Linked DNA regions of Homo sapiens: region 1 is linked to region 2. The links come from fine-mapping of genetic effects on gene expression. A gene starts in region 2. The other region holds a variant in brackets. All regions are shown on one strand. Distances are from middle to middle.

Region 1 (4,398 bases), 92 kb before region 2:
TTGCTATATCTGGCAACCCTAGTTTTGTGGCACTCAGCCCTGGGTTTCCCCCTGTAAATAGAGGGAGAAGACGCCAGATGAGGTTTTGGCAGATGCTTGGGACTGGCTCTACCCCAGAGCTGTGGCTGTCTCAGAAGGCAGGAGCACTGAAGTGTATCTCATGTGAGTGGAGGGTTTACTAGTTGCACTCTTGATATAGTACTGATCCTGTTGAGGCAGATAAAGGCAGTGCGGCAGTCTTACAAGGAGGTAGCTAAACCAGCCACCTACAGGGTGAGGTAAATCCTAGTATTAATCACTTAGGAGAAGTGGATCCTTAGGTAATAGGACTTAGGGGTTTTACCTTTTCTCTCCTGGTCTAGACACTGAGGAAGAGAATTATGGTGTCTACAGGTGTGTTCTGTGTGACAGATTAGAGACCAGGATTTGTCCTGTGGTAGACAAATGCCAGAGAGGCAAAGTATATTTAAAAAGATAGATAATAGTTACTCTCTGTGTTTGTGTTTTATTAACCCCTAGCCCAGTGGTTCCCCAATTTGAGCCTGCAACAGTATTACCTGGGCTCTTAAAACGTGGATTGCTGGATCTGCAGTCCTAACAGGTTCCCAGGTGATGCTGATCCGTGTCTATACTTGAGAACCACTATCCTCTCATCAGTAAAGGGGATTGGAGCTTTCTGTTTTAAATGTTTGAGCCTGGAGAAGGGTCAATTATCTAGTTGGGCTAGACTGTGAAAGGAGAGTGGGAGACAAGGCCACCTCCCTGGGACTTAATGAGATTGGTGTCAGCAGTTATCCAAAGAAGAGCCTATGGAAGAAGGGAATCTTGGGAAAGAGAGCCACCTGGTGTTGCTTGCCTGCCTCGTGAGGAAACTGTCTTCCCCGCCGGGTTGAGGCTCCTGAGCTTTGTTTTAGGGGGCACTTCCTTAGAATAAAGAGCATAACTGGTGATAATGGGTGAGGTAGATTACCTAGGTTGAGAAGCACTTCAAAATATAGGACCTAACTTTTGCAGCAACATGGATGCAGCTGGAGGCCATTATCCCAAGCAAAGTAATGCAGGAACAGAAAGCCAAATACTGCATGTTCTCACTTATAAGTGGCAGCTAAACATCAGGTACTCATAGATGAAAAGTGGCAACAATAGAAACTGAGGACTATTAGTGTAGGGAGGGAAGGGGGGTAAGTGTTGAAAAACTACCTATTGGGTTCTGTGCTCAGTACCTAGGTGACAGGATCATTTGTACCCTGAAACCTCAGCATCATGCAATATACCCAGGTATAATAAACCTGTACATGTACCCCCTAAGTCTAAAATAAAGGTTGGAAAAAATCTAATTTTGGACTTTTAATACAGGTTGAGCATCCATAATCCAAAAAATTCAAAATCTGAAATTCTGAAACTTTTTGAGCACCAACATGATGCCACAAGTGGAAAATTTCACACATGATCTCATGTGACAGGTCACAGTCAAAACACAGTCAAAACTTTGTTTCATGCTCAAAGTTATTAAAAATTTGTATAAAATTGCCTTCTGGCTATGTGTATAAGGTATACATGAAATATAAGTGAATTATGTATATGCAAATATTCCAAAATCCAAAACACTTCTGGTCCCAAGTATTTTGGACAAGGAATAGTCAACTTGTATTCCAAAACAAAACAAAACACAAAAACTAATACACAGGACCTAAGAGGGCTTGAGAGAGGATGAGAGGTTCCATTTATCCAACTTCCTAGGAGGAATTCAGAGGACACCCATAGGACCACAGCCCAGGGAGCCCTAGAAAAGATTTCAACCATTCACTGTAAACAAAGTTTGGGGCCCATGAAATGTATGACGATGAGAGATTACATGATACCATGGTCACTTTAATGGTTCAACCCTTATTCAGAGAGAGCACTCTTTCTGGCATGGGTTCAGCCCTCTGGACTGGACTGACTCCACAGTGAGTTTTGAGGCTTGGGAGAGAGCTGCAAGGAGGAAGAAGGAAGAGAAATAGGGGAGAGACATGGGGAGAGACAGTCATGCCTACTTCCTCAGCAGGCCAGAAGCAGCATGTGCAGGTGGGGACCCAGACTCTGTACTTGGACTTAAAGTGAAAGGCTTTCCAGATATTGTACTTACCCCTAAGGCTGACAAAGGTGGAGCCTCAAGCCTATAGCTTTGGATCAAGACAATTGTTCCAGTTCTCCTATCCCAGAAATGTTCCTCTCTCCTAAACCTGAAGTGGTCGAACACTTTCATCCCTTCCTCACAAGGAGGGTCAGGTGATCAGGTAAAGGTAACAACTAACCCAAACAGGAAGTGTGGCCAGATGCTTGTATACAGGTAAGGGTGTGATTTGGTTGCTAATTTCTCTTCACTTCTGGGAGACCAGCCCCTTATAAATCAAACTATAGGCCAGAGAGGCTGCCACATGCTCCCAGGCTGTTTATTTGAAGAGAGACTTACATTAGGCAGTGACTCGATGAAGGCATGTATGTTGGCCTCCTTTGCTGCCCTCAC[A/G]ATCTCTTCCTGTGACACCACCCGGCTGTTGTCTCCATAGGCAATGTTCTCAGCAATGCTGCAGTCAAACAGGATGGGCTCCTGGGACACGATGCCCAGGTGTGCTCGGAGCCACTGAACATTCAGTCGCTTTATTTCTTTGCCATCAAGCAGCTGAAAACAAGAGTTCACAGATCAACTTCAGGACCAGCACACTTTGAATGTAGCACAATTAACATCATTATTTCTTACACTGAAACTGCCAAGTTACTGTGAGATTAAGGAAAAGTTTGTGTGATTAAAATTTGGATAGTGAAGGTTAACCCAACAAGGTCATAATTGTATGCCTTGAGGAACTGTCATGTTTCCTGTGTTTCAACCATGGTTTCTGATGTATGCATGTGGTAGGCAGAATAATGTTCCCTCTCCCACAAGACATCTGTGTCCTAATCCCTGGATCCTGTGAATGTGTTATGTTACATGGCAAAAAGAAACTAAAGTAGTAGATGTAAGGTTGCTAATCAGCTGACTGTAAAATAAGATTATCCTGAATTATCTTGGTGAAACTAATGTAATCATAAGGGCTCTTAACTGAAGAAGAAGGAGGGAGAAGAGTATCAGCAAATGCAGTGTGAGAAAGACTCAACCAGCCACTGCTGGTTTTGAAAATGGAGGAAGGGGCCACAAGCAAGAAAACAGATCATCCTTTGGAGCCTCTAGAAGGAACACAGCCCTCCTGACACTTGATATGAGCCCACTGAGACCTATTTTAGACTTCTGACCTCCAGAAGTGTAAAGTCATAAATTGGTGTTGTTTTAAGCCACTGAATTTGTGGCAAGTGGTTATAGCAGCCACACTAATACAACGCCTAATACTTCTGAGATGTATCCTGACAGCCTTATTCTTAAATCTCCATTTTTCAGAGAAACAGTGCCCAGGATTAGCATGGAAATAAATAACAACTATGACCACATAATAGCTTTGCAGGTCAGGAACTACAGGGGATGGATAGGTGAACAGGGGTAGGAAAGGGTGAATGGAGATCCTCAATACTGAGCCAGATGAGTAGGAACAGAGGGCTGCCCTTTCTCTATAATCTGGCTCCCTGGATTATCCTGCAGAAGACTGGGGAGGGCACCTTACAGCCTTGCTGATAACAAGCCCTACTCTGATGCAAATATGTCTATCAGATAGGTCTGCTTTGCAAGATAATTTTCTGGCATTCAAGTGAGAGAGCTGTTCATCCCTTCTGAAGAAGGCACCAGTGACTCAGCTTTGAGCTTTTCTAATAGTAGTGACTAGTGCGTGCTGAGCCATATACTCTCTGTATCCCATGTGCCTGGCTGGGTGGCTCAAGGGGACAGCTGCCTAGCAGTAGAGTACAATCTTTGCTACAGGAACATGGCTTCTGCTTGTGACACTGGCAGGTGCAGGGATGGAAGCTCTCCCATAACCTTATTAGTTCCAAGCTGAGTTGCCATGGAGACTATTCCACACATGTATGCTCCAGGCTTCCTTACAATGTTAATAAATGAAGGTGGAAAGTAGAGGGTGGAGAGAGACAGTGAAAGCCAAACAAGGATGTGGCTAAGCAGCAGATCTTGTTAGATAAAACACTGTACTTGAGAAGTGGAAATTTAAGGAAAGGAGGAGTTTGGTTTTTGCTTTTGTTTTTGTTGTAATTTTCCAGGTTTATACCCCTGGGAGGAAAACAGACACTGCCTAACTAATATAATCACAGGCAAATCTGAATGATCTCAGCAAGTTATAATGAGTTTCTTCATTACACTGAATACACTCTTGGGCCTCCTCGTCCCCGCATAATACCCTAGAATTGCAAACTATTTAAAACCTGTGTTGACTGAAGAATTCTTTCTTTAAGTAAAACAAGTTTAGATGCCTAGAATGT
Region 2 (4,398 bases):
AGGTCTGATCACTCGGTTAAGGTGCTAACTGCAAAATCTTTAATTGGAGAAGCATATTCTCCTTCCAATTAGTAAACATTCTGAAGAAAATTCTTAGATACAACATTTTTCTGATAGTTTAGAGTTCATTGACAATCCTTGCCTGAATCTATTATAACAATGGAAGTTCCAAAATGATAGCTGGAATTTTTCTCTAAAGATCATTGCTTTATTTTCTCTACCTCTCACACTTTCTTTCAGTTTCCCTTCTCTCAGAATATTAAGCATTCAGCAGTAGCATTCAGTATCTCAAAATCAGTTACAGTTACGATGTTCTTTGATGCTCAAATTGTCCCAGAGTTGGCCATTGGAAGCATCTTCCAGACAGCTTCAGTGTGCTTTCGACTACTCCATTAAACTCCACTTCCTTATTTTCAGGTACCACAAGATACTCCAGGCTCACTTTCTATTTTTCCTGTCCCAGACCTGGCTGAAATTAGCTACTGAGGGGTTCATTTCTTTTAGGGAGGAATGGTATTTAGAAACCCAGATCTGGTACTAACAGTGCTCATTGTTACTGTCCCTTTCAGTGGACTGAAAATGAACTATTAAAAGATTATGAATTCATATTGAAATTTCTAATTCAAACTTAACATTATTTTTAAAAATGTATTTGATTTCCACATTTGTATTTTTTCTCTTACACTGAAAAGCTTGGTTTCTTATAATATTAATGTGTTTACTAATTTATCTTATAATTTACATTACAGTTTCTAATATTATTAAACTTACTAGTCTATTTTACAATTTACTACTAACAATGAATCTATTTAGTGAAGTTTTAAATATTCTATAAAGGCAGAGCACCATGATCAAAATTTACTTTAAATAATTATTTTCCCTATATGATTACATTACCAATATTATATACAGATATTTATTGCCAGTTAACAACCTAAATGTACTTTTGACCTTCTGTCTCATCAGCCAGGCCACAAACGCGATGTTTACATAGCCATTTACCGGAAGCAAGAGCCTGGACCACAGAGCAGATCACCAGCAGCATATGGCTCACGTGTGGGCGACCAACACCACTTGAAAAGCAGAAGTTCATAAGACAGAAACACATATGAGCATCCGCCTGTCTGGGGCAGGAAAGCTGAGAAAGAGGCACACCAAGACTAAGGGAAAGAGGCCGGGAAGGGTAAAAAGGTGAAATGAAAAGAGGTTGGTGAATGACTAAGAACGGTTGGATAGGACAAATAAGTTCCAATGTTCGATAGCAGACGAGGGTGACTACAGTTAGCAATATATTGTATATTTCAAAGTAGCTAGAAGACTTAAAATGTTATCAACACATAGAAATGAAATATACCTAAGGTGATGTATCCTTCAAATACCCGGACTTGATCATTACACATTCCGGGCATGTAAAAAACGCTTCCATGTACCCCATTTCATAAATATGTAAAATATTATGTATCATTAAAAGAAAGAACAAAAAAGACAGGGAAAATGCATATGCTGTGCTCCACTCAGCCAACAAACTTCTGCTCTAAGCAGGGATATTGATTCCAAAGGCTAGCTTGCGTTTCTTAAAAATAATTAAAAACAACAACATGTCATTTATTTCAGAGCTGGAGGCTAGAAATAAATTACTCAAATCTCGCAACTATGTAAACTATGAAAATGAAACAAGCTAGTTACCTTTTATTGTTCAGTTTAAAAAAGTTCTTCTTCTTTGCTCCTCCATTGCGGTCCCCTTCAAGATCCATTCCGACCTGAAGAGAAACCGCAGCTCATTAGCCAAATGCATGAGCCTCAGGCGCGCTGGAGGTGAGACTAACCTCTAGTCCCCCGTCGAAGCCAGAGAGCAGTAAGAGGGAGCGCCCGCCGTTGATGCCCCAGCTGCTCTGGCCGCGATGGGCACTGCAGGGGCTTTCCTGTGCGCGGGGTCTCCAGCATCTCCACGAAGGCAGAGTTGGGGGTCTGGCAGCGCGTTCTGGACTTTGCCCGCCGCCAGTGCGATTCTCCCTCCCGGTTCCAGTCGCCGCGGACGATGCTTCCTCCCACCCACCGCCCGCGGGCTCAGAGAGCAGGTCCCCGCACCGCGCGGGCTGTGCGCGCTCCGGGCAACATGGTCCAGTGCCACTACGGTTTGGGCGCTGCTCCAGGAGCTCCTGAGTCTAGATCTAACCCCACTTGGTCCCCATGGACTTGCCAGAGGACTTCACACTATCCACGCCTCAAGAAGCCCTTCTCCCGTGAAGACCAAGTTCAGGAAATCTGAAAGCCTGACACTTGGGAACTGTCCCATAGTAGCTCCCAGCTTTGCGTGCCCCTACCTCGCGCTCCTTGGAACGGCCACCAAGACGTGAAATTTTGGAAGAAGATACTCCGACTTTAGTGGAAAGACCTAAAGGAAACGAACAGCGGCCTCTGCTTCTTTGAGCTTGGAAGAGCCGCTACTCGAATGAGCTCAGGCTTCCTGTGGCAAAGAGAGCGAAGCGGCTGTGCTCAGCCCACGCCCCGGCGCTGTTCCTGCCCAGCCAATCAGCCTCACCACAGATGACTGCTCCCGGCCCGGATTGACTGAATGCTGATTCCTCGAGAAACTGCGAAACAGGTTGAATTTCCAGGAGGAATGTTCTGGCTTCCGTTGCACCTCTCTAGAAAGGGCAAGTAGAGAAACGCGCATCAGCTGAATCATTGGGGACATTTCAACTTATGTAGACACGTCTTTCAAAGTTCACATAAGTCTTCATATCCATATAACTACAGGACGTAGTTAAGGGAAATTTTCTCGGGATTCGCATTTAATACAGTTAATACAAAAACTCCGACCTCTCCAATTCTGTATCACCTTTCTGCTTCCTAACACCTTTGAAAAGGCTAGGAGAAATTTTTCTGCAGTGGTCTTTCTTCAGCATGCTTGACAGTTTCTGAGTTACATCTGTTCATCCTTTATTTGATGATAAATGGAATGAAAGAAAAAGGAAGTTTTAAAAAATATATAGAGACAGGTATTTCAAGGTACAAATGCTATTTCAAAGTGTGTAATATTTTAAAACTTCAGACGTCAGATCAATGCCCGTGTTTTTCCAGGGCATTTTAAATTCTTACATTTTAATTCAAATTAGTAAAATAAACATAGCATGTTTTAGCATATTACATTAGTTGTAATTTCCTTCCATATTTACTGCCAACATTTAATATTTTTTCCTGTCCACTATTTACTTCAAACTGAGGAAAAGTACGTGCAATCTGCACAATTCAAAATTGTAAAGCAATGCTAACTCACATCAGAGCTTTTCTTACTTCTTATGAACATAGAGGAAATAGGTTTGTTGTATCCTCTAGTCTACATTCTATGACTTTCACATATTACCTATCAGTTTATTGCATAAGTTTAGAAGAAGAAAATCACTTTGTTTTTTACTGCATAGTCTGAGGATGTTTCCACTTTCTTTAAATAACTCATACTTCAAAGCCATAATTTTTTTCTATTCTTGACTACAAATTTTCCTTATCTTGATATATTTTGTTCTTGGCCTTACAATACAATGAAGTTTTCTTTTGTTTTTCTTTCTTTTTTCTTTTTTGAGACGGAGTCTTGCTTTGTCGCCCAGGCTGGAGTGCAGTGGCAGGATCTCGGCTCACTGCAAGCTCCGCCTCCCGGGTTCACACCATTCTCCTGCCTCAGCCTCCCAGGTAGCTGGGACTACAGGCTCCCGCCACCACGCCCGGCTAATTTTTTGTATTTTTCGTAGAGACTGGGTTTCACTGTGTTAGCCAGGATGGTCTTGATCTCCTGACCTCGTGATCCGCCCGCCTCGGCCTCCCAAAGTGCAGGGATTACAGGCGTGAGCTACAGCTCGGCCTCTTTTTTTTTTTTTTTTTTTTTTTTTCACAAATTGTTAATTAGGCTTCTAACAGGCCACTATTTTTTCCACATGTTCTAATTGCATATGCAAGTGTACAGCATTGTTCACTGTTTAAAGGCTTAACAACAACCCTGTGGTCCATCTGGGGTAAATGTAAAAGCTTTCATCTTCATTACATGCGTTTTTAATCTTATTTGTGCCTATGATCTCTGTTTTCACTTTTGTTTTGCTTTGTTGCTTTATCTCACCTTTCATTTATGTAATCTTGTTGTATTTTATGTATCCTTTTGAATGGCCTTAAACCCTCCCTAAACAGTGCAGGATATAAATACAGTGCTATACTGTTATGTTGATTATACTATTTCTACAATCTTGAGCATCAGGTAAAGATCTCTATCAAAGATATAAGTAAGTTAAAGATCAGAATAACACAGATTTTAAAAATAAGATTCTACCATTCTATTATATTGTATTCCATTTCTTTGCTCCACTGACATGAAAGTGTGAATATAAAACATGATGGACCTAAAACAAA

Which allele goes with the higher level. Positions count from the first base shown, and alleles are read on the strand shown. Sizes are in standard deviations (SD) of each study's normalised expression.
In carriers of allele A in region 1, the expression in testis of the gene that starts at base 2,454 in region 2 tends to be higher than with G alone (moderate effect, 0.69 SD a copy in GTEx).

Evidence for each region. PIP is the estimated chance that this variant, and not a neighbour inherited with it, causes the effect. A credible set is the group of variants that fine-mapping cannot tell apart.
Region 1: its variant is the best candidate, but not a certain one, in a credible set for the expression of ABCB1 in testis (GTEx, PIP 0.86).

Annotation. Positions count from the first base shown.
Region 1 is chr7:87,506,820-87,511,217 of GRCh38, forward strand. It overlaps ABCB1 (ATP binding cassette subfamily B member 1), which reads right to left. Exons shown (of 28, transcript NM_001348946.2): 26 at 2,456-2,662. Among named protein-coding and RNA genes, the nearest start is that of ABCB4, 33 kb to the left of the region's middle. The variant A/G (reference allele first, on the strand shown) is at 2,510.
Region 2 is chr7:87,598,431-87,602,828 of GRCh38, forward strand. It overlaps ABCB1 (ATP binding cassette subfamily B member 1), which reads right to left and starts at 2,454. Exons shown (of 28, transcript NM_001348946.2): 1 at 2,325-2,454; 2 at 1,687-1,760. The coding sequence starts at 1,754. RefSeq lists enhancers at 557-1,756, 966-1,355.